Linked DNA regions of Homo sapiens: region 2 is linked to region 1. The links come from fine-mapping of genetic effects on gene expression. A gene starts in region 1. The other region holds a variant in brackets. All regions are shown on one strand. Distances are from middle to middle.

Region 1 (12,923 bases):
CGAGGTTCTTCTCCTCCACTGCGGTGGTGTGTGGTGTGTGGAAATAGCATTGAATTTGCAATCCAGTAGTCTCAGATACCAGTCCTGGCTGGACTTCCTTCTTGCTACAACTTGATTTCTCCTCCGTAAAGTGGGTTAACAGTAATTCTTACATCACAGGGCCATTGAAAGGATCAAGTAACATAAATATGTGTTTTATAAACTAATAGGTATTATCATGACATTGACATTGTAACTACTCCTAACTGGACTGAAAACATTCAAAGAAAGGCAGACTAGAGCTGATGAGAAAATGAAAGAGGTCCAAATGGAAGGGAGTGAATTGATATATATTTCTTTTTTTTCTTGAGACAGAGTCTCACTCTGTCACCCAGGCTGGAGTGCAGTGATGTGATCTCATCTCACTGCAACCTCTGCCTCCCAGGTTCAAGCAATTCTGGGACTACAGGTGTGCGCCACCATCCCCGGCTAATTTCTGCATTTTTAGTAGAGATGGGTTTTTTGCCATGTTGGCTAGGCTGGTCTCGAACTCCTGGTCTCAAGTGATCTGCCTGCCTGAGCCTCCCCAAATGCTGGGATTACAGGTGTGCACCACTGCATCCAGCCAATTGTATATGTACGTATACATACGTATACATACATATATATTTTATTTTCATTTATTTATATTTTGAGATGGAGTTTTGCTCTTGTTGCTCAGGCTGGAGTGCAATGATGTGATCTTGGCTCATTGCAACCTCTGCCTCCCAGGTTCAAGCAACTCTCCCGCCTCAGCCTCCCGGGTGGCTGGGATTACAGGCATGAGCCACCACACAAGGCTAATTTTGTATTTTCAGTAAAGACGGGGTTTCACCATGTTGGTCAGGCTGGTCTCGAATTCCTGACCTCAGGCGATCTGCCTGCCTTGGCCTCCCAAAGTGCTGGGATTACAGGCATGAGCCACCATGCCTGGCTATATATTTTTATTTTTAAAATTAGGTTACACATGCCATCTTAAAAATAAGCCCTGTTTTTTCTTGTCTCCTCATTCTATTTTGTTTTCTTTAACATTAGCCCACCCAGCTGGCTAGAGAAAAATTAAATCACAAATGAATAATCATTTAATTGTGATTTTTGCATAGTAGTAAGTGCTCAGGATGTATATGAATTAACCAGAAAGTCCACATCTAGTAGACAAAAAGAAGACTCCCTGGATGAAGCCTAGGTAGTCTTCTGGCCAGTGATCTGCCTGTCCCTGCATGGAAGGTGGCCTGCCTCTCAGAGATTCTTGAGTCCCTCCTATGACCTCTGGATTTATTGGTGTTCACTTGACAAATGAACTTAGCCATCTGAGTTTCTGAATTTGTCTGAACAATGTGAGTTTGGTTTCTCAGAGGTCTTTGCTCCTGGTGCCTATATCTGCTTCTCCCCAGAACATCATGTCAACTTTTCATCTCCACATCCACACCCCTAGACTAATAAGTCAGTCCTTCTCCGTGATTGCTCCCAACTTTATTGGTTGGTGCTGACACCACTAGCCTTGTCAGAGCTATTGAATAGGTAAGTTTTTGCATTCCTCTTCTTGACAGATTCAAAGTCTTTATTTATGTCTTTCCTAAGGTAAAAACTTTCTCAGAATCTCAGGCGTGTCCTATAATTTATAAAATAATACAAAACTCCAACCAAGTCTGGTATGAAAGCATATATCAGCATTTCCAGTGGTACCCAAATGCCCAACCCCTGTCTTTTCAGATACAATAGGTGAGATTACATTAAAACAGTGGTTCTCACATTCTTCTACAATCTGGCATTCTCAGATTAGAAGAGATAGCTCAGTACAGAAGTGATTCTTGTGAGGATAGGAGGGGTGGTAAGGGGAAATACCTTTCTTCAGTTGGACCAGAAGCTTGAGGAGGAAGAGGAGGTATGCTAATTTAAATAGGACTCTTCAGTGGGAGCTGGAATGTGGTTAAGGCTAAACACATGAATTGCCCATCGGGGTTACTTCTTGAAACATGAGACTAATGTCACTACTCCTTGGCTTTCATCATCAGCTCTAGAACCATAATTTTTCCGTAATGTATCATATGATTATAATTTGACTTGTTCAGGCTCCTCCCAGGACCAGAGCACAAACTCATGCCGTAGCTCTATTCAGACGTTTTTATATTGTTCCATGGAGCTGCAATCTCTTTTGGGAACTATACCAGGCTACATAGTATGCCTCCTTCATGTTAATGTTCACCCAGAACCTCAGACCTTATTTGGAAATAGAGACAGTGATGATGAATTTTATGTGTTAACTTTACTGGGTTAAGGGATAGACCAGATATTTGGTCAAACATTATTTCAGGGTGTGTTTGGAGTGTGTTTATGGAAGAGATTAGTATTTCAATTGGTAGACTGAGTGAAAAAGAGCGCTCTCACTAATGCAGTTGGGCAGCATCTAATACATTGAGGGCCCAGATAGAACACAAAGGCAGAGGAAGGATAAATTTGCTCTATCTTTAAGAGCTGAAATGTCTGTCTTCTCCTGCCCTCAGACATCTGTGCTTCTGGTTCTTGGGCCTTCAGACCCAGAATGGGACTTACACCATCATCTTCTCTGGTTCTCAGGCCGTTAAACTTGAAAAGAATTATATCACTGGCTTTCCTGGATCTCTAGCTCACAGATGACAGACTGTGGGGCTTCTCAGCCTCCAAAATCACATGAACTAATTCTTATGATAAATCACCTCATATATATATTTATAAATAAAGCAGATTGCCCTCTGTAATTTAGGTGACCTTAATCTAATCAGTTGAAGGCCTGGATAGAACAAAAAGGCAAACCCTACTGCAAGTAAGAGGGAACTCCTCCTGCCTGGCTGGAAGCTGGGACATTGATCTTTCCTGGCATTTGGACTCAAACTGAAACATCTGCTCTTTTTGGGTTTCAAGGCTGCTGGCTTTTGGACTGAAACTTATAGCACCGGCTTTCTTGGATTTCGGGCCTTCAGACTCAGACTGAACTGCACATAGCACCCCCGGGTTCCTAGCTTGCCAACTGCAGATCTTGGGACCTCTCAGCCTTCATAATTGTGTGAGCCAGTTCCTTATAATAAATTGTGTGTGTGTGCCTGTGTGTGTGTGTGTGCATGCAATCTCCTATTGGCTCCATTTCTCTAGAGAACCCTGACTAATACAGGGGCTTTGGAGATGTAATTTATTAATCTAAGATAAGGTCATACTGCATTTGGGTGGGCCCTGTTCCCACAACTGATGTCTTTATAAGAAGAGAAAACAGAGGCAGAGGCTCTTAGAGAGAACATCACATGATGACAGAGGCAGAGGTTAGGGTGATACACCTGCAAGCCCAGGGACACCAATGACTGTCAGCAACCACCAGCAGCCAGCAGAGAAGCATGGAGCAGATTCTCCCTTGGAGTACCCAGAAGGAACCAACTTTGCTGGTATCTTGATTTCAGACCTCTAATCTCCAGAACAGTGAGAGGATACATTTCTGTAATTGTAAGTGACCCAGTTTGTGGTACTTCGTTATGGCAGTCCTAAGAAATTGCTACAGTTTCCTACTCAACAACCTGCCTGCAATCAGTTCCTCTCTACTCTCTACTGCCATCCAGGACCGAGGTGCTGGTTCCCAGGCCCACCTGATGTCACATTGCTCCATCAATGTGATGAAGGCCCTCCTACTCTTACCCTCCCCATCTGCCTTCCCTGCTGATGAGCAGCTTGTCTGTCTGGGTCTCTTCTAGTGCCTGCCCTGAGTCTTCCCCTGTTATGGTCTGGAACAAGCCGTCACAGCCTTCTTGCTACCTTCACTGGCACCATCGGATGGCCTGGACTCCCACCTGCTTCCTGATGTCAGCCCTCTGGCCACAAGGAGCCATCCACCTGGCTGCAGCAGGGTCCGTCTCCACAATGCCTACTCCATCCCCACTGTGTTGGGAGGGGATAGTTTGTTCTAGGTCTGATTCCAGTCTATTTTACCCTCTTAGATATCCTTCTGTGCCAGGTTACCTGGTGAGGCAGGAAAGTCAGGATCTGAATTCTCTGAAATCTTGTTGTCATCCCCTCAGAAAGTATTGTTTGATGCAGGTGTCCTCCTGCCTCCGTTTTATTTACTGTGCAGCAAGTAGAGTCCCTTTATCTGCTTGGCACTTGGCCTCATTTAGATTCTTAAATGTGCTGGCGAAAGAGTCTGTCTTTCTGTGGGGAGCTCCTTTTGTTGTTTCATCCTTTTGACTTTCTTCCTTCTTCCTCTTTCTTTCTTCTAAAAATGAAAACAAAGGAATTTTAAATGAGCCAATTCATTGCTTACAAAAATGGTCTTATCCATATTTTGGTGAGTAATTAGTAGCATCGGAATCCTGCCTGAGCAATTTTTTTTGCCTCCCATCCCACCCCAATCAGCCTAAAAGTTATAATCTCTAAAATCAGAGTAAGAGGATACTTCGGCTGCTTTTTATGCCCAAAAAATTATATACATGTACATATGTGTACATATATATGTCTTTTTGTGTATTTATAGAGTATGTGAGACAGAGAAAGACAGATTAACTAATCAGTCACAGGAGGCATATGACACATGGATACAAGAGGCAACTACAAGGATTACTAGAAGCCAGTTGGGTGAGAACCGTGTACACCTGCACAGGACAGATGCTGGAAACAAAGATACACTATCTCTGGCACCTTTTTATGGAAAAAGAAATTTACCTCACTTTGGGGATGTGTGACTGTGGAGAATGTGGCTTAGTATTTATGGAGTGTTCATCTTGTAGTTAGCGGTTTGTCAATTCGTAAAATTTTAGAACTAGAGGACCTCTTACCTTAAAGATTAGGAAATGGAGCCCACGGAGGTTATCCATTCCATAAGCCACAAGCAATAAAGTATGGCCACTCACATCTAGAAACACATCTTGAATGCAGAATCAGTGCCCAGCAGTCACAGGACTGAAAGGAACTTTCATGACTTTTCTTCTCTGTCAACAGTAATAGGTGGATCTTTGGGATTTCTGGTCATTTAGGCCACTCAGTAACTGGATCCCAGTTTCCCTAATAATGTGTTGCATTTGCAAAGTCGACCCCCAGAATAATCTGCTTCTTCTAGTCCCACTGTCCAGTGTGCCATGAGATAGATACCTGCTCTTCTTGTCCTTTTTTGTCTTCATAGATAATGTTTATGTATACACTGTATATAATAAAGGGAGATTTTACCAGTGGGTTAGGATTGGCACAGATCATGCTAAAACTCTTTCCATAATTTAGCAGATACTCTCAGAGCACCTCTCACATGCCCTCAATCCTTTGCCAGTTACCAGTCGTGCATACAGTTTCAGATGTGCTTCTTTTCAGGACAGTCAGTCCCCAACTCTGTCCGAGGACTTCCCTCAAGATCCAGAACTTCAGCTTTTCTTGTGTATGCAGACAGCTGCAAGAGCTTAGGAATTTACATCCCTCAGGGAGTATCCCTTAATGACTGATGCGTGTGAGGGTATAAATAATCCAGCTACCCTGCTTCTAGTTTGGGATAACCCTAGTTTTGTGATTTACTCTCCAGTGTTTCCTTGCATGACTGAGCTAAAGTTACACTCACAGAACTTTGCTTCATATTGCACCCTTGCTTGGCTTCCTTCCCTTTCTATGTCCCACTTCCCTTCTCCCCTATGGATTTTGCCAGGGGGCACTGTGTAATAAACCACTTCCATAAAGATCATCATCTCAGAGTCTGTTTTTCAGGGACCAGAACCCAGAACACATGGACTATCTTATTTAGTGCTTTCAACAAGCCCATAATGTAAGTTTTTACAGAAGAAAAAACAGAGGCTCAGAATTATGGAGCCAAGATTCCTGTCCAGTTTCCCTGGCAGCTGAGTCCATGCTCTCAGCCCCTCCACTGTATGAGGCTTAGTTCTGTGGTGCTCCTCTTCCCCTGACTCAGGGCTGGCTAACCTACTCTTATTCCTGGGTAGGTGGAGCCAATGTCCTCTATCAAGTTTCTCTCAGCTGATCCCAGCATGTCCACTAGGGAATTTGACCTTTTTCCCAAGTCTTTGTAGCTCCTTTACTGAGTCTGGACTCTAGAAATCCCATACATCGTCATCCCCCATGAGCACCAGTGAATGATTTAGACTCCAAATGAATATACATAGCATACATTGTACCCAAAACCTTCACCCCACATACATTTGAACTCTAGAGTTAGATTCCTTATTCCCTTGCTATTCAAAGTGTGGTCTGTGGACTAGCAACATGGACATCATCTGGGAGCTTGTGAAAAGTGCAGAAGCTCAGGACCCATCCCAGATCTGTTGAATCAGAATCCGTACTTTGAGAAGACCCCCTAGGAGTCATGTAGGTTTTAGAAATTGAGCCCGAGTGGAACAGGACCTGATTTTGCCACGCTCCCATGAATTCAGCCACCTGGATTCCAACCCAGTCCCTCTGCACACCACCCCTCCCTGGCATGAGCTCCCAGCATTCCGTTTAGCCAGGACCAGGCCTTCTGTGTCTACTCAATTCATAGGATTGTGAATCTCTCCTCTAGCTAAGGAATTCTGCCTCTCTTCTCACAACAATCTCCCTCTCGATAAATTTAAATTTATTTTTTCCTGAACTAAAATGGACTCTCACCTTGGGTGGGAATAAGATGGCTATTTGCCTAAAAGACAGATAAACTACGCATACTCTTAATATAGAGGATACAACCTGCAGGAAAGACTCAAGTAGAAAGTGTAAGATGAGTCCTGACTTCTAACTTGAATTAAAAAATACCTAATGCCCTGACTAGAAAGATACATTCTAAGAAAGGAGTACCTCCACGTCAGATCATTTGTGAAAAGTGATTCCTTGAAGGTTGGCTGTATTGATGGCAAAGATTGCTGCATTCAGCTGTTCTTTATTAGAACTCCTGAAGATACACCTTCTTGGAAATACAAACCTGCTCTGTGGAAAAGGGAGAGAAATTTGTGGAAAAACAGATGGAAGTAGTGAGGACGCTGCTCCATAGGTTTATTTTGCAATCTTCACAGACAGTTTTATTAAAAAGACTTCCAGTCATAATAGGGCTGTGAGTGATGTTTGTTGAGAAAGGAAATAATTTGGTAGATGGCTAGTTCCATATGAAGAGCTATTGCAGCCACAAGGAGATCTGAAGGTATGGAGATTACTTCAGATATTTGTTATGGTAAAACACCAGCGGGCCTGACTTCTTTCCACCATCAGTAACTCCTTTTAACTCCAGTAGCAATTCAGCTTTGCTTTATTCCCCATTCATTCAATTTTTCCGTGGTCCTTCTTAAGTCCTCCTTACTTGGCCTTAAGCTGATCAAAAGAGAGATTTCCATTGTATATCAAAGAAAAGTTTAAAATACTTACCCTGTGGTAAGTACTTATCTCTCCCATTCCAGAGAGAAAGTGGCCATAGACAATATGGACATGAACAAGAGTGGTCGTGTAGCAATAAAACTTCACAAAAACAGGCAAAGGGTGCATTTTACCTGAGCCCAGCTCTAGAGAGACTTTATGATCTTCTCCATCACACATCTTCACCCTGGTCCAAACTACCTTTATTCCTTGGGAACGTAACAATAGTTTTCTAATTATTCTCCTTCTGCTTCCATTCTTATCAGCCTCTAATCCTTTCTTCCCACAGCAAAATGAACTTTAAAACATATGTCAGAACATGTCCCTCCCATGTTAAAACCCTTCTGTAGGTTTCCTTTTCAGAAAGCTTTGGATATTCTGCCATCACCTCCCCTCCCCTTGCAGTCCCTATCTTCATCTCTTATTGCTATTCTCTTGGTGCCTCTGTCACATTGCCTTTCTTTCAATCCCTAAAACACTCCAACTTCTTTTCTATCTCTGGGCTTCCCATAGGTGGGGCTCTGCCAAAAAGACTCCTCTCCCTCCTTTGCCTGGATAGCCCTGCTCCTGTTTTAAGTTCTAGAATTGGTGTCATGTCCTAGACTGGCTCCAAACTGAATTTCATCTTCTTTGTTATTCTCTCATATGGCAGCTTGCTTTTTTTTTTTAAAGCACTTTGTGTAATTTGTAATTATAAGTATACCTTTGTTTGTTGGCCACCTGTCTCCACTAATGTAGTAAGCTCTGTGACAACAGAGGCCATGCAGTTTGCCACCATGGACTCGGTGTCCAGAGCAGTGTTGGCACAGGGTAGGCCCAGGGTCTTGATTTTTGATAAATGAATAATTGGGCAAATGTGTAAATCAGGTGATTGTGTGTGATGGGAAAAGGATTCTTTGGGTAGAAACACAACAGGGTGCAAAGTCAACACCAGATCAGTTGCAGATTGTTTTGTGGGAAATGAATGATTCAACAAGAAAAGCTAAGTAAAGACTGAGGTAGGGGCTGGGTAAGAACAAAGGAGTTAGTAGGCAGCAAGTGTATTCACGTGCTATGGACTGAATGTGTCTCCGCAAAAAAAGTGTGTTAAAATCTCACACCTCAATGTGATGGCGTTAGGAGGTGGGGCCACTGCCAGGTGATTAGGATGTGAGGATTGAGCTCTCCTGAATGATATCAGTGCCTTTTAAGAAGAAACACTAGAGAGCTTCCTCTTCTCTTTCTCTCTCCCTCCCCGCTGCACCCCCCTCCACGATGTAAGGATACAAGAAGACAGCCATCTGTAAAAACCAGAAAAAAGGACTTCAACAAGAACCCAACCATACTGGAACCCTAGTGTTGAACTTCCAACCTCCAGAACTATGAGAAAAAAAAGTTTGTTATTTAAGCCACCCAGTCTATGGCACTCTGTTATAGCAGCCTGAACTAAGACAGTGAGAGACAGAAGACCCTTGAAGGCAGAAACCAGATTTCTTTGTTTCTTTTCGTGTCAGTGCATGACAGGATACTCCATAAATCCCAGTGTAAACTCAGAAAATGAAAAGAAAAAGTACTTGATTAAAGGATGAAAGCTTAGAGAGGGTTTTGGGGGGCTCCCGTACAGTTTTAAGGTTCAAAGACAAACACATTAGGAGTCAGGGGACATTCTACTTGGTTAAGTACTAAAGAGAATGGAAAATTAGAAAAAAGAATATGATTGATTCCTTAGGGTAATAGAGATAGAAGATTTGGTTAGTGGAAGTATGGTAGAGAAAGGAATGAAAGACAGAGCTAATTATTTCCCAGTATTCCTTCTTTCTTTCTTCTTTTTAGTAATAGAATCTCAAACCTTTACTTGAGAACACAAATTTTTGTGATACCCCATATTTTCCAGTCTGCTTTGCAGTTAGATATGCCATGTTCCTAAGTTTTGGACAATATATGTGAGTGGAAGTGAAGCATGCATCACCTGAATCTTTACAATGTAACAAGTTTCCCTCTACTCTGCCTTTCCTTCTTTCTGTTCCACTACTGAGTGTGGTGACATCTGGAGTAGCCACCTTGACCCTAACATAGAAGCCTCATGTTGACGATGGAAACACTGGAGCAACAAGCCTTGGTCCCCGTGTGACTCTGTGGAGCAGAGCTGCCTGTCCACCCTGTGCCTCCCACTAAGTTTCTGCCTTATTTAATCTCATGTATTTAAGGTTAGAGCAGGTTAGCCTATTACATAGCTAAAGCAGTGTGGTAGAGCTAGAAAAAAAAGTGCCCTTCTCAGGAGCCATGTAACAAAACTCCCTGGGCCACGAAAGACTGAGAATGTGGTACTAAGTCAATAAACTCAGTTCCAATTTATCTGTCAAACTGGATAACAGTTATTCTAAAGGGGTGTGATTGGTAGATCTTTAGATTAGTAGACCTCTCCACAGTAAGTTCTTATAACTCTAAACATATGGTGAAAATGGATTAATCTTACTGATGACTCATTCCCTGGATGGATATAGAAGGACTAGGATTGGGCTGAGGATGTGAAAAGATAGCAAAAAGAGGACAGTTTCTTCAGTGATTGTGACGAGTGTCTGCCTGGCATTTGTGGATTGCTCTATGTGTGCATTCTATCTGCTCATCTAGGTTTTAAGTTTCCTGAGAGGATGTTTAGGTCATATTTATGTCCTCCATGACATGAAACCCAGTGTTCTGCACATGGTAAGTGCTCAGCAAAAAATTTCTGACTGAATGATTAACCGAAAGTTATTTTCCTCTGTCATGAACACTTCCTTGTTTCCTGTGCTAACCTCACCCCTCTTCTAGCCAAACTATTCTGACATAACCCTAAAAGTAGCAGAAACAGGCACCCAGTAGTTCAGGAAACCCTGGGACTTCCCGGCAAGCTAAAAGCCAAACTAGATTATTGGTATGAATTTGAAAACCAAGAACCTCCAAGGCTTTAGAAATAGAAAAGGATTGAATTTGCATCAGTATCTGTCCCAAACTGTCTCTTGTGAAGAGGGAGAAATGAATGTCAGAGTAGGTAAGACGAGACCCAGAGACCAAGAGATAGAGAACAAGAGGTGGACTGAGAACAGCATATTCCAATTCCCTGAGCTGTCAATCCAACACCTTTCACCCCACATCAAATTCTCTTCCAATTTCTCCTGTTAAATTGCAATCCAAAACACACTGCAGATGTGATATCATTTTCCCTGATAACTGGACCCTCTGAGTTAATGACTTTCCTTCCTTCCAGTGGGGAAACAATTTCATTTTGCTTAATGTAATTATTGTAGTCTTTTTCTGTTCACCACTCTGACCCAAGGAGGCCCAGTTTCAGAGGAGCTCAGCTTCTCCTCTCCAGCTGCACGTGGAAACATTATTATTACTATAAGTCTACATTGTGAATTGTGGCACAACAGTCCACCTCAGCCTAGCCGATGACCTCTCATTGACAATAACCAGGGCTGGCCAGGAGACAAAACTGGTCGGTATGAAGGAGAGGTGTGTGCCTCAGAGGAAAATACAGACAAACTGCTTATGTTCTATGTTGTAACGTGGTTCACCCACAATTAAGTTCCCTGGTCTAGGGACAGAGTCTGGGAAATGTGAGTAGCTTGATTCTGTCATTTACCTTTCCCTGAGCCACAGGTGGGCTCTGGGAAATAGGAGTAGCTTGGTTCTGTCATTTACCTTTCCCTGAGCCACAGGTGGGCTCTGGGACCCTCTTTTCCTTCAGCGCTCCGTACTTCTATCCAGAGGAAATTTAAAGCAGACAAGGGTTAGCAGCGCTGAGCCCCAGCAGCCTTGAAACAATTGAATGGAGACTACTGAGCTCTGTGAAAGATGTGTCGGGCTCCTGCGAGGAGCTCCCTGAAACTAGAGGCAGCCACCTCAGCTTCACTGCTGACTCAGGCGAAGGCTTAGCGCTTGCACCAACATAGTTGATGAATGGGAGTGAGGCTAATTTGGTGTCATTTGTTTCCCATTTCCAAGCCCTCATTAAAATAATCTGCTCTGATTGTCTAGGGAAGTTATTTTTTGCACTTCCTTTCCCTTCACTTTACAATTTCACAGGCAGCAGATTTCTGTGTGGAGGGGTCCAGTCAGCTCTGAGGAGAGATGGGGGAGGATAGGAGGGGCTCAGGAATTGCTGGGAGCACAGCCAGACCTCTTGGCAGCCAGTGAGGTGGGAATCCCAGACCCTCCACTGTCCCCTGGACTGGATCCCTGACAAGCACTGGATTCCTGGTATTGAGGGATTCCACCTCCCTGGGAAATTCCTTTGATTAGAGAGTAAAAATAAAGGGAAATCTTGGTTCTGGTTAGCATATTTCAAAAAGGGTTCTCCGAGGAGGAAATGAAGCATCCCAAAATAGAATTCAGAGCTTCCATTCTCTCAGTCACCCATACGTGATATAGTTTAGCACACGCTGAGATGGTGAAGGGAATGACTGTCCATTTACTCAACTCTTGCTGAGCACTTGCTATGAGACAGGCAGTGTCCAAGATGATAGGGACACAGAGATGAGTGGAACACAGGGCCTATCTCCTTTTCTATCTCAGAGTGTATTCTTGCTCATCTATCTCCATTAATTCAGAATACTTGTCTCTGCTAACAGGCCCGCATTGCCATCTTCACACCCTTTTTGGGGATCCAAGTAATTTCCTGCAGGCTTTGTCTTGACTCACATCTCTGGCCCTCATCATTTTCTTGCCCTTGGGTAGAAATGCTTTGGTTTAGATTTTACTGTTCCAAAGCCAGTCTCTGACTTCTGCTTTTGGCTAGAGCCCAACCAGGCCAGCCCCAGCCCCAGTCCCATTGAGGGTAGCCCTTGAGTAGCAGCCCTAGAAAGTATTACATTCAGCTGGGGAGACAGAATGCCCACGTTTGCATAGATCATTGAAACTGACTGGACAGCACATGCCAGAAGTCTAATGCAGGGCTCTTTCCTGTACTCGCAGTCAGATGTTTGTTCCTGGCCACTCTCTCCGAGTCACAGATGCAGCAGAATCGCCCAGGGTCTCCTGCCCCAGCCAGATTTCCCAGAACCATAGCAGCAATCTCCTTCATTTGGCTTCTGTTTAAACCAGTAATAGGATTTACCCTTGGTTTGCATAACAGAAGAAGAGTTCTTTATTTTTTCTACTATTTATTATGACATATAAATTATGATAATACTGGTTAAACTATTTTTTATTACTCTAAATTGTCACTTACTATTTGCCAGGCTGTATGCAAGGCAATGAAACACTAAAGTCAACAAGGTACAATCACTGCCCTCAAGGAATCTATTAAAAAATGGGCCAAATAGCCCCTTTGGTTTCTGACTGTAAAGGAAGAGTCCTTTACATACAGGGTAGATATTCATGAAAATGTCTTCCTCCTGTAACATCTTTTTTTTTTCATTCTGGTGTCTGAATATCATTGACTCACTCCTGCCTCTTTTCCCCACTCCCTCCCCCAGCAGCTCCCTCCCCCAGCAGCTCCCTCCCCCAGCAGCTCCCTCCCCCAGCAGCTCTCTCTTATCCCAAAGCAGGGATGCCTCTTGCGTTCACGTGTATTACATGGTCTTCAGGCACTTCATGTTTCTACAATCAACATA
Region 2 (12,923 bases), 150 kb after region 1:
CAGAAACTAGAAGAGGCAAGGAATGGGTTCTCCCCTAGAACCTCTGGAGGAAGAGAGTGTGACCTGGCTAACATCTTGACTTCAGACTTCTTGCCACCAGAACTGTGAGAGAACAAATTGTTGTTTTAAGCCACTAATTTGTTGTAATTTGTTACAGCCACCATGGCATACTAATACACTCTCCTTTAGTGAAATATAATCCCCAAGAGGAAAAAGACCTTTTCTCTCTTTTGTTCTTTATTCTATCCTCAATCCTACAGCTGGGGTCTGATATACACCAAACATTTAGTATTTACATTTGATAAATGAATAAGTGGAAGAGAAAGAGTCCATATAACATTGGGATCTAAATTTCTGTTCATTTTCCTCTTTAAAATAAAACTATTTTCAGCAGTTTAAAGAGTTAACATCTGCCAACATAAGTCAACAACTCACTTACAATATAATTAGTCCTACTAGAAGAACCATGTCAGGTAATACTTTAACGGAATGGTCTTTCCCAATTAGTAAGTGGCTGAGCTGGATCTAGAAACCAGGACGTTGGCTATCAAGCCTAATATTCTGTCCAATCTGGCCCAGCTAGCTTCATCTAGACATCCGTTCTTTTGGAGGAGTTTACAGGGCCCAGACAGAACCAAGGCTAGTTTCCACAGGTAACACTAACCAGTCTCATTTCTTTACAACCATCTTCATTTATCATATCTCCAAGAGATTTCTGTCTTAATAGTCAAAGCCAGCTGCTACCACCCAAGGCCGATTCTGCCAATGATAGATTTTTATAATGCGTGTAGCTAATAGGGCTTATGCTGTCATAATGTGGCAGGACTAGATAAATCTCTGTAATAAAACTAAGAATCTCTTGCGTTTATATATTGCTTTTACTTTCTAAGTGCATTCGCATCTGTTCTGTCATTTTCTTATTCCAATACCCTTAGGAATGATGGATCCGTCAGAGGCAATGCTCTTTTTATTTAGATCGAAAAAACTGGAAGGACGACTGAAAAGTGCTTTCAATAATCCCTTCTGGCAAGTGGGCATAGTCATTGCCCCTCTTACACACCAGAACCTTATTAGGATCAAATATGTAAGTTGATGTCCTTAGAAAAGCATAAAAAAGCTTACCCATCTGATGAGGCTCCTCTGATGAACCAGTCCTTGCTTTAGAATAAAAAATGAAATTCTGGCACTCTTACCCCATAAATTATAATTGCCTTTTTTACCTCTCCTTAAGCTTGGCGCCCCATCCCTCTTTTCTCCTCCCCTTGGCATGTAAACTTAATGTTTCGACCAAATGAGTCAACCAGAACGGGAATACAAATTCACTAAGCAAATGTACAAAAGGTATTCATGCGCTATTGCGGTTAAACTGCCATTAAAACAAGAACTAAACAATAAAAATCTTGTGTTTATAGGATGATGCAATCATAAAGAGAAAAAAATCATTCATCTTTGGTCATCAGCTGTTTTCTCCAGTCTGCCCATGATCTGCTCAGAGAAAGAAGATAAATGACAACCACTGAACGGGCCAGGATAACCAAACCCAGACTTGAGGGAGATGGTTTGTCCCATTTCTGCAGCTTTTGACACACATTCAATTTTGTTTGGGGAAATGCAAGGACCATGTCAATGGGAAAATCTTGGTCACAAAATATATATTTAGAGCAACTATTTCAAAATTATATTTTTCACTTCTTTTTTAGCTCTAATGGGAGCACATTTAAAAAAGGAATACATAACACTTATACCTTTTTAGAAAATAAGGTATTGCTCTTATAAGCCATTTATTCCTAATTACACAATTAGTTTATCATTCTGCACTTGCTGAGAAAAAGCCTATAAGGCAAAGAATGGGCTGACTTAAGTTTTTTTTTTTTTAATTATTAAAAAAAGTTAACAATCTAGTTTCTTTTCCTTCTGGAATTCAAAAATGTTAAAGCTACTAAGTATTTCTCATTTCTGGATAATAAAATAATGATGTAATTAACAATCAAATAGCATAACATCATATGAAATTGTTAAATCTACTTGTGAATAGAAGTAAAAGCTGTACCATTTTAAGGAATTTTAAAATGAGATAATTATCACGTAGTTTGAGAGTGGAAATCAAATTCTTCCAATATGCATGCTACTCTTGTTGGGTACTTCTAAAAAGTTGCTCTGATGGTGGGACTCCTAAGGTTTTGGATGGAGCCAGTTACAACTGCAGGGGCATTTGCTTCCAGAGTGTTATTTTTACTCCCAGTGAACTGCTCCTCCAACGGCCTTCCCCAGGACACAGTGTCTGCTGGCCACACAGTTTCTTCAGCCACTGCTCTGACTACAGACCAGAGGGCACCAGCTGAGCTGGGGAGGAATGGACTGCATTTCTCCTTCAGAGAGGTCCAGTACCATCCTTCACCTAGACTGTTGAGTCTCTTGATGGTTTCCCTGTTTCCGGCCCTGTCTTTTTTTTTTTTTTTTTTTTGAGATGGAGTTTCACTCTGTCACCCAGGCTAGAGTGCAGTGGCATGATCTCAGCTCACTGCACCCTCTGCCCCCTGGATTCAAGAGATTCTGTTGCCTCAGCCTCCCTAGTAGCTGGGATTACAGGCAACCGCCACCACACCCAGCTTTTTTTTTTTTTTTTTTTTTTTTTTGTATTTTTAGTAGAATAAGGGTTTCACCATGTTGGCCAGGCTGGTCTCAAACTCCTGACTTCAAGTGATTCACCCTCCTCAGCCTCCTAAAGTGCTGGAATTACAGGCATGAGCCACCATGCCCAGCCACTGTCTCCTTTCAATTAGTCTACCCCACAGCAGCTAGAGGTCCTTCTGAAATGAGAATTTGATTGTCTCTTCCTTAACATCCTTCAAGAGTTCACCATTCCTTTAGGATCACATCCAAATGTCAATGGATAGCATTCAAGGACCTTCTCCATCCTTCCCAAACCTGTCTTTCCAGGTCCCCTCCTGCTATGCATCACTTAATATCTTGTGCTCAAGCCTCATGAATGGAAAAGATATTTATGCCTCTTGTAGGGGAAGAAAAACAATTTTTCTTTCATCCTTCGTAAGTTCTTTGTTGGAACAAACTCCTGTTACAAAAGACAGATGAACAAGAGAAAAGCGAGGAAAAATAAGTTTATTAACATGTATATTTCATATATACATGGCAGACACCCAGGGAATAAGTAGTTCTCTAAGAGGTGGCTTTGAATACCAGCTTACGTAGTATCTTCAACAGAGAGAGGTAAACTTTTAGAGAAGTGACAAGACAAAGGAAAAGGACTGAGTTTCTGGGGACAGCAATTGGTGGGAAGACAAATAAATGGCAGACAAAGGCTGTTAGTAAAGCTTATTAATGTAGATTCCTCTAGTACCATCTCTAGACCAAGAAGCACCCAAAGTGGTCTCCAGTGCTTAACCTTTGTTCTCTCCCTGGTAGGAGGAGGAGCAGGGAACCTTTTGTCTCTGTCAGTCTAGGTCCTGCTTTTTAGGCAAATAGAGGGAAGGTAGAGAGCTTTTCTGCATCTGCCTCTTCCAAATTGCCTTCAGCTGGATAATCCTTCATGTTTTCAGGTGGCATATTCCAGCCTCCCACTGTTTTAGTCTGTTTGTGTCACTATAACAAAATACCTGAGACTGGGTAATGTATAAACCATGGAAATCTATTTCTCACTGTCCTGGAGGCTAGGATGTCCAAGAGCAAGGCACCAGCAGGTTCAGTTATCTGGGGAGGGTTGTTCTCTGCTTCCAGGATGGTGCCTTGCAGAGGAATCCTGCAGAGGGGCTGAATGCTGTGTGAAGCCTCTTTTATAAAGGCCTAAATCCCATTCACAAGGGAAGAGTCCTCATGACCCAATCATCTCCCAAAGGCTCACCTCTTAATAACTACTGCATTGGAGATTGTTTCAACCTGATGCTCAGAGGTCCACAAACATTCAGATCATAACACACACAATCTCTACTCTCTCTGCCTTCTTCCATGATTTATCCTGGTGATACCCATTCATCCTTTAACTCAAATGTCACTCTGGATTCTAAGTCTCAAAAGGGCAAGCATGACATCCTGTATACTTCACAACACGTGCATGGCTCACCGTGGCCTATGTGAAGTGCTTATCAGAAACTTCTAAACCTATTGTGAAAAGAACTAGCATTTCTTCCAATAATATTATTCCCCTGTTATTCACTTTTTCTGATCTTTTGCTTATTTTCCTATTTCTTTGCTTTTTTTTTCTTCTTTCATTTTCAATTTCTCTCTAATAGGGGGAGCACCAGGATGGGAAAGAACTTGAGGTTGGGGAGCCTTTGGTGAAACCAGTTGCTCTATCTGCCTCTACTGGAATTTCTTCTTAACACCCCATTGAATGCATCTGCCTCAGGGGCCTGGATTGTGACAGCTGTTTAATAAACCACATCAGCAGTGCACCAGGCTTAAGACAGAATGAAAGTGAGAACCTCATATTCCATTTCAACTCTGGTGATAACCTCTGAATTCCATTATTCACCATTTTAATACAACCTTTATTATTTTCCTCAATGTCCTCCCCCCACCTCTAGTTTCCTTCTTCCCTTTGGTGTAGTCAAATGGCCTTTGGCTCAGCGGTTGGTGGCTTTATACATGCAGCCTCTATTCATATGCATAAGCTTACAGCTGCTCAAATACTTCAGAAATCTGATCAGCCTCCCCTTCCCGCTCCCCCTCCTAAATGCTTCGTGAAATCTTTGCTAGGCAGAGAAAAAGGCCATGTCTCTTAGCTGCTCCTGCCCTGCCTGTCCCCATTCAATTGTGGGGATGCATTATAGTGGAGTGGTGGTGGTTATCCTTTTGAAGTCCTTACATATTCCACCCCACTGAATAGAAGTGAAAGGGGGAGGGATGGAGGAAAAAAAGGATGCTGGTGCTGGCCATGATGGAACATTATGGAAAGTCAAGCTTCTGAAGAGGAGCTTGCTTCCAACTGCACTATCTTCTAGGCAGTGAGACCAGCATCTTCACATTTTACAATAGAAGGGACGGCAGCTAATTTCAATGCATCATGTAACTCCCAAGAGGTGTCACTTTACCTGGATGCTTAAAGGCAACTTCCCTGTCTCTCTCGGATGGGGCTGACAACATGGAATCTCCCCCAGCAAAGAATGTGTGCAGGAGTGACAGACAGCTTGAGGAAACACCTGTTTCACTTGCCTCACCCAAGCCACAGTTATCTATCACTCAGCAGTTCAAAGCTGAACTGGCCAGGACAGAGCACCAAATTGCTGGCAGAGGCCGGGCTCCAGTCAAGTGCTGGCATCTCATCCAAACAGGTTGAAATTAGGTTTCAAAACTACCTGTGAGAAAGAAAGATGAGGTGGAAAGTCGCTGATGTGAGCAAAAATACTGCAGTAATAGCTGGTTGGGGAAGAGAGCGGGGGGGAACTGAGCTGCAAAAACACTTAAAACATGCTACTCTGAAAGCCTGTGGCTCCCTTGTCTCCCCCAACTCTCTCTTTTATTAACTTAGCTTCTTTTATGAGTACTTTAATAAAACGAACTCTTTTTTACCCTGTGCAAGGAAGATCCATAAATGCTCCTACGTTGAAAACAAAAACAAAAAGCAAAAAACTTACATTTCCCAGGATATCCGAAAGAAAGGAATGGGTAGGGGAGGGAAGAGCAATAAATGGTTACACTAAAGGCTCCTGTTATATGGAGTCATACATAAGGTGGGCACGAGGATGCCTTCTGAAAATCCAGCTGACGCCATGTGAAGGAAGGCATACTTTTTCAAGACTTGGGAGGAAGATAATCCTTTATGACTCCTCATTTAACTTCTTTATATCTAGTGATTTATCATCTAATCCCTGAGCTTTACTTGGGGTCACAAGAGTCCTCTTTTACTCTGTGTGTACAGTGAGGGCTGAAGGGTGAAAGGGAGCCTCATCTACAAGCCCAGGACATGTTCTGAACCGACTGGCCACCCGGAGGCCTTAAGACCCCTTGGGAGAGCAAGGAAAGATTTTTTTCTCTCTGACATCCCACATTGAATCCACCTGCAAATCCTGTTGGTTCTACTTTCAAGATACATTCAATCCACTTTTGGCATCTCCTCTGTTATCACCTTGTATATGGTCCAAACTGCCCTCATCTGTCACCTATATTACTACAATAACTTCTACCTGGTCTCCTTGCTCCCACCTTTGTCCCCACTTGTTCTGCATAAGACAGCCTAAGGTAGTGGGAGAGGTCCTCCACTCCACGCCACCACACCCGGCCTCCTTGTTTTCTTGATTATCCTGTTTAAACTTGCAATGACCCCCCACTGCCTTCACTATCCACATTCCCTACTTTATGTTTCTCTATAGCACTTATCATGGTCCCATACACTATATATTTTACTCATTCTATATCTGCCAACCTGTATGTTCCATCAGGGCAGGAGTTTTGTTTCTTTCATGCCTGCATCCTCAGTGTCTAAAACACTGCCTGGTACATAATAGGTGTTCAATAAATATTTGTTGAATGAATATTATGCTCATTCTGAGGCCAAAATTCTTTAAAATTGGGGATAAAGGCTGTGTCAGCATTGGAGCTGTTGTGCCAAACCCCTATTAACCTCAATAGGGAAGGTGTTAGGGTCAAGAGGCCAAAGAAAAGAACCAGGAACAGCAAGCAAGACATGAGGTTTTATTAATGGATTACATAGACAGGAGAGATTCCAGTGGTGGTGAGTTGGACAAGAGATTTGCCTTACATACAGAGACAGATCAGTGGCAGCAGCTGGACAAAATGTCTGCCTTACCGCCTTACCTACAGTCAACAAAGCCCAGTGGTGGTGGGCTAGGCAGGAAAACCCCAACCATTTGCAAAGAGCATGCAGTTTATATAGCATTTCACTTAATATCCTGCCCTTAACAACCTCCACCTGGCAATCTTCATCCAACCCAAAACTCAGGGCTTCAATCCTCTATACAGCCCATGTTCCACAGGATGGGCTGGGGTGTGTACGTAGGGATGGGGCTCAGATGTTCCTCATTGACAAGGAATGAATCTCCAGGTTGGCCACGCCCAAATTCCCTAGCTTGGAACACGAATTCAGGTGTATCTGCTATATAGGCTATGCTTAAATTATTGCTGTCAGGTGCATCTACTGTACGGGGCGCAACTTCCCAGTGGGCCACAGGACACGGCTCCTCCAGGGATGTGGGTGTGTAATGGTCAGAGCAGGATAGATTTGGAGAGCAAAGTCAGGAATGCCAGTCAACCGCAGGCCTAGACATTGAAAAACTGGTCTCTAAGTTTGAAAGGAGAATATATATATATATATATATATATATATATATATAAAACTATCAACCACAGCACAGTCATTGATGCTTACTTAGTGAGAGGGCAGCTCTCAGTGGTTAGGAAGAACCCCCCTCTCCTCCCCCTTAACCAGGTGGCCTCATTCTGGAACAAAAGGCATCCAAACATAAAGAAACAGCACTGCCACTCTGCCTTCTCAGCTCTTATCTTTACTGCTCTGTTCTTGTCATCATATTGGTCCTTAGAGTAGGCCACGCCAAGTGCAATCAGGGTGGAATTAGTTGCTACAGGATATCTGTAGCAACTTCACAGAAGTTCCTCAGAAGGAGATTTCATGGCACAAATTCCCAGTGGCTGAAGTGGAAGAGCTCAGCAGTCAAGGGCTTTGTATTAATTACCCTGCCCTGGCTTCCTTCCCTTAATGCTCAGGTGGCCTGGTTAAAATGAATCCCATCCTCATTCTTCCATTTAAGCCCAATGATAGTCATAGTTCTAGCAAGGAGGGTGCAGTAGGGACGTCCACACCCTGAACCTGCCCTGGATTAGGACAATACACTGGCTCCTCTCTGCTATTCTTAGAATTGGAATCAAAGTGTGGAATTGTCCACTCTCTTTCCATGTCAACACAAGACCTCAATCTCTGATCCAGCCTGACTTTCAGAAGTCCACAGTAGACACAGGAGTGATA[T/C]GGAACTGACCCTTCAGGGCAGGGTTTAAAACTAAGTGTTATCTCAAAAACAGTGTCCAGGGTTAGGTATGGCAACCGAAGAGAAGCTCCAGCTGTAAATGGTCTGGAGGTGACAACTGGGTAAAAGAAATCCCATAGCAAACAGCAAGCAGGTTTCGAAGGGAGGGAAGGCAGAAACCTAGACCCTGGGTTTTAGAGGCCTCTGCATCCCTCTGTTTTGGAGAGTTGGGGTTCAGGACCTGTTAAAGCAACTTAGAGTCTTCAGACAGGAATAGACAACTCTTGGTTAAGTTCAGGACAGATTCAATGGGAGAGATAGAATTTTCATTACTTTAAAAACAGGCAAAAGAGTAAGTGTCTGTAAATCTAACTCAGCCAGAATCTATCTCAATATCCTTTTTTATTTTTTAAAGGTAGACAAATTTATTATATTTGGAGCATAACCAACTTGTTTCTTATTCTTAGCTCTGCCTCCCTGCCAGGCCAGACATACTCACGGACACCAAAGCCATGGGCACCAGCCCTGATTGTAGTGGATATGAGTTATGAGTTAGAATGAATGCATTTGGAGACTGGAGCTAACAGAATTTGTAAACTATGCAAATCATTTCTTATCCTTCTTACTTTAAAAAAGGACTATTCTGCTACTCTCAGCAGATTTCAGCCTATTCACTGAGTACTTCAGAGTTTACAAAATACTCTCATATACATCATCTCATCTTGTCCCTGTCCCTGCAGGAAGCAATGGGGTGAAAAAAAAGGGGGGGATTACTTCAGATCAGTCTCAAAACATCAAAACATGACTTAGCTGGTCCTAGTCCCACTCTGTCATGGTTTGGTTTTTAGCTCAAATAAACACATTCACTGATTTACAAAACTAGGTAATAAAACATTCATCCCTACCTTCTTTTTTTTTTTTTTGAGACAGTCTTGCTCGGTCGCCCAGGCTGAAGTGCAGTGGTGTGATCTCAGCTCACCGCAACTTCTACCCCTCAGGTTCAAGCGAAACTCCTGCCTTAGCCTCCTGAGTAGCTGGGATTACAGGCACCTGCCACCACACCCAGCTTTTTTTTTTTTTTTTGTATTTTTAGTAGAGACAGGGTTTTGCCATGTTGGCTGGGCTGGTCTCTAACTCCTGACCTCAGGTGATCCACCTTATTGGCTTCCCAAAGTGCCGGGATTACAGGCATGAGCCACCGCACCTGGCTGATTCATCCCAGCCTTCTGACCATAGGATAGAACTCTTTCTTAACTAGCGGATTCCTGGGGGCAGGAGGTGGGAAGAGAGTGTGACAAGTACAGCCTGTTCTCTCCTGAAAACTCAATTTGTCTTCTTTTCCCCTCCCTGTGAACTCTTAGTTGATACTGAGCCCGTACTGGTATATTCTTATCTTTCCCTTTTACGCATCAGATAGAAGCTAATGAAGGGTTCTTCTGATTGAATTTTGTGCTTATAGTTCCCCAGGTGAGATTATAAGAAAGGAAAAATATGGGGAGGTTGAACTAATACAACCTCAGGTGCATGTAGCACAATTTGATGGGATCTTAAAGGCCTTTCAGACTTTTAGTCTACAATCCCAAAGTGGTCTCTCTAATTCCTACCCCCTCCTTCTTTCTTGCCCCACACCAAGACTTCCTATAACCCTCCCCACTCACTGCCACACCTAACAGGAGGAAGTGACTCAAATCTCCCCAGGACCCCCAGCTTGTAGGCACCGATGTGGCATCTCCTTTCCTAAGGTCCTCTCCAGGTTTATCGGGCAGACACAGGCTTCCTAACAGCTCTAGCCACCACACAGTCGCCTCAGCACTCCACCTTTCCTGCACCAGTGACCGTTGTCAAGGTCCTCAGCGCAGAAATCAACTAGGAAGGCTGCCTCTCTGTGAGGTGCGGGCACACATGGTGGAACACCAGCATCTGTGCCAGAGCCTGTCTCCCCGGAGGGAGGTTAAGGTCTGCAGCAGTCAGGAGTCTGCCTCCCATTTACTGCCATTCTTTCTTAGCTGAAGGTGCTGAGTGCTTCTTGTCCTTCCCATGATTCTCAGAGCCCCTTTTAAATCATCTCTCTGAACTCGAGCATAGTCCATGGGACTGGGTGGAGGAAAAACACTACACACCACTACTAGATTGCCCATGTCCCTTAACTCCAACCCCTGGTTCTAAAACAGCTTTCTTCTTACTGGCCTCCTCCTTTCTCATCAAATCACTCATAGAAACAGCTGCCTGAGGAGCTGCCAGCTCCACACACCCATCAGGGTGACAGCTTGCTGCCAGGCATTCTCAGAGGTTCCAGCAGTGGCTCACACCCTTCAAACTGCAAAGTGTTCTTTCCTCTCTCAGATGATCGACAGGTCTGATAAACACTTGGTTCAGTTAGGTGACTGAAAAAGAGGGCTCCAGATGAGCAGAACCTCCTCACCCCTATACCTCACCGATGGGTCATAAAGCAATGGACTTTCAGATATTAGCAACAGATCTCGCTCACCTGTGGTTTTCAGAGCTTTGGTTAATAACCTGAGTTACCCTGGCCTCCAGGCTTGTCTCTTTCCCCAAGAATCGACCCAGGGCTACTTAAGGCAGAGAGATCCATTTCCTGGAATGAGCTGCTCTGAACCAAGACAAGTTCATGGTCTCTGAGTCCTCATTTGTGGCCTGCTGTCTTGATAACAGCTCTCTTGTCAGTCCTCCATAAGCTCTGGTCCAGCCTCCCCGTTGCAGGACATTTTTTCATCTTCAGAAGATTCTGAGACTTTAGGAATGAATCATTGCTGGTATGCAAAGTTACATAAGAAAAGCTAGGGACAAACTAGGCAAGTAAAGAATTCTAGTTTTTCCAAAATGGAAATTTTAGAAAAATATAAAAAATAATCTTATCAAAGCATGTGCTTCCTCTGGCAAAGCATACCTCTCCTATCCACAAGGAGCCTTGGGTGCAGGGGAAGATGAAATAATGATATTGCTCATTAGAGACAAAGAGGAAACTAGATGGGTCTACAGGGAGGGCTCCTTCCTAGTGTTCCTTCAGAGAGGGATGCTTTCCTACTCTGTTGTGGCTTATCATGTAGATTCATTCTTGCATAGAAAGCAAATAAGAGAATTGAATGCCATCATTTCTGTGAGGAAGAAAAAAGAAATCAACATATCAACTGTTGTCCTATTTGCATCCCTTCCTTCTGCTTCCTTATAAAATTAGCAGCAAAATGACATTCCTTATTCCTCCATGCAAGTCGTACAACTGACAGCCTTAGCATCCCAAATAAAGCTCCTCTCCTTAAGTCCAATATTGAAGTCACTTAAGAACTCTCTGCCCTTGATTTTGATCCTTTCTCCTGTCAAAGTGAGGGTGACATTAACAAGTGTGCACAGGAGGGGGCTTTGTGCCAATTAACAGTTTCTCATTAGCTTAATTAGGGGACACATGTTTTTAATCACAGCTAAGAAAGTGGAATGATTGAAGAATTGATTCTGAGCTTTTGAAAGCATCCCTGTCAGTGCATGGAATTTAATTCTGCAGATGTTGCTTTAAAAGAGACAGTGGTAGAAAGAAATAGCTTTAAATGACATGGCCTCACTGAGCATAATAAGAGAATAGGAATCTGAACCAGATAAACAGAGTGTTTCCACTTCGGATCTAAGACAATCTTTTTCAGGCTATCTGCAGAATCGAGGGTCTTGCCCTCTTTGTTATATTATGTGAGATAGCCAAGTGGGACAATTTTCTTTTCTTTTCCACTAACCCTTTATCCCTAGATTCCGAGTAAACAGACCTGATGGTTGTAGAGATGTTCAGATAATGTGGATAGTTTAGATGCAGATTTCGGGGGGTTGCTGATGGTTGTTCTAGCTGAAACGGCTGTTAAATTTGGACTTCATGGAGTATTTGAGAAGTCTAAATTTGTGAGACCTGTTTACATCAGGAAATGGTTTGATTTATGGTCTTGCATGCTTGTAACCTGAAGCTGGGTAACTGTCACAGTCCGTATATAACCCAAAGGGCCACTCATTCAGATCATGCAAATCTAAAGGTGATTGTTAAGCACTAAAAATTACATTGATTTAAATGTCTATATTGTTTTGGGCTCTACACAATACAGCAAGGCCATGACCCATTCCATTTAAAACCTTAGTAGGCTAATGTTTCACTAATTATGAGATTTTAATACAGTATGCACACAGATTTGTTCTTTGTAGAATGCAATCTTTACTGATATATCCCTTTTGCAATTTATCTTTTATTTTTCTTGATTGCAAAAAGCAATAAACTTTAATTGCAAAAAACTGAAAAATACTGTAAAACACAAAGAAGAAAAAAGTAGTACATAATTCCACCTACGCAGATATAATCACTATTTATATTTTAATGTATAGGCTTTTTTACTATGTAAATTTCCTTTTTTTTTTTTTTTGAGAGAGAGGGTATGCACCGTGTTGCCCAGGCTGGAATACAGTGGCACCATCATGGCTCACTGCAGCCTCAACCTCCTGGGCTCAGGTGATCCTCCCACCTCAGCCTCCTGGGTAGCTGGGACTACAGGCATGTGCCACCACACCTGGCTAATTTTTTGTATTTTTTTGTAGAGACAGGGTTTCACCATGTTGCCGAGGCTGGCCTCAATCTCCTGAGCTCAAGAGATCTGTCTGCCTTGGCCCCAAAGTGCTAAGATTACAGGCATGAGCCACCAGGCCCGGCCACACTATGCATATTTTCTAATAAAATGGGATGATACTGTATTTCTGGTTTTACAACAGCTGTTTTACTTACTATATCATTATGACCTCCCCAGATCATTAAATATTCTTGTACAACATAATTGTTAATGACTGCGTAGTATTCTGGCTCATGAATTTGTCATATTTATTATAGAACATTACAAATATTCCCATTTTTGGTATTATAAGCAATGATGAAGTGGTCATGCTTGAATATAAATCTTTTCAAGCATCCTTGATCATCTCCTTTGAATA

Direction of the effects. Alleles are on the strand shown, and positions count from the first base shown. SD is a standard deviation of normalised expression in the study named.
As copies of T replace C in region 2, the expression in caudate of the gene that starts at base 6,263 in region 1 goes down (moderate effect, 0.49 SD a copy in GTEx).

What was found.
Region 2: its variant is fine-mapped to the expression of LINC02769 in caudate (GTEx, PIP 0.97).

What each region holds. Positions count from the first base shown.
Region 1 is chr1:208,631,986-208,644,908 of GRCh38, forward strand. LINC02769 (long intergenic non-protein coding RNA 2769) reads right to left here and starts at 6,263. Exons shown (of 3, transcript NR_187286.1): 1 at 4,000-6,263. RefSeq lists an enhancer at 314-483.
Region 2 is chr1:208,777,221-208,790,143 of GRCh38, forward strand. No RefSeq gene overlaps it. Among named protein-coding and RNA genes, the nearest start is that of LINC01717, 55 kb to the left of the region's middle. The variant T/C (reference allele first, on the strand shown) is at 7,958.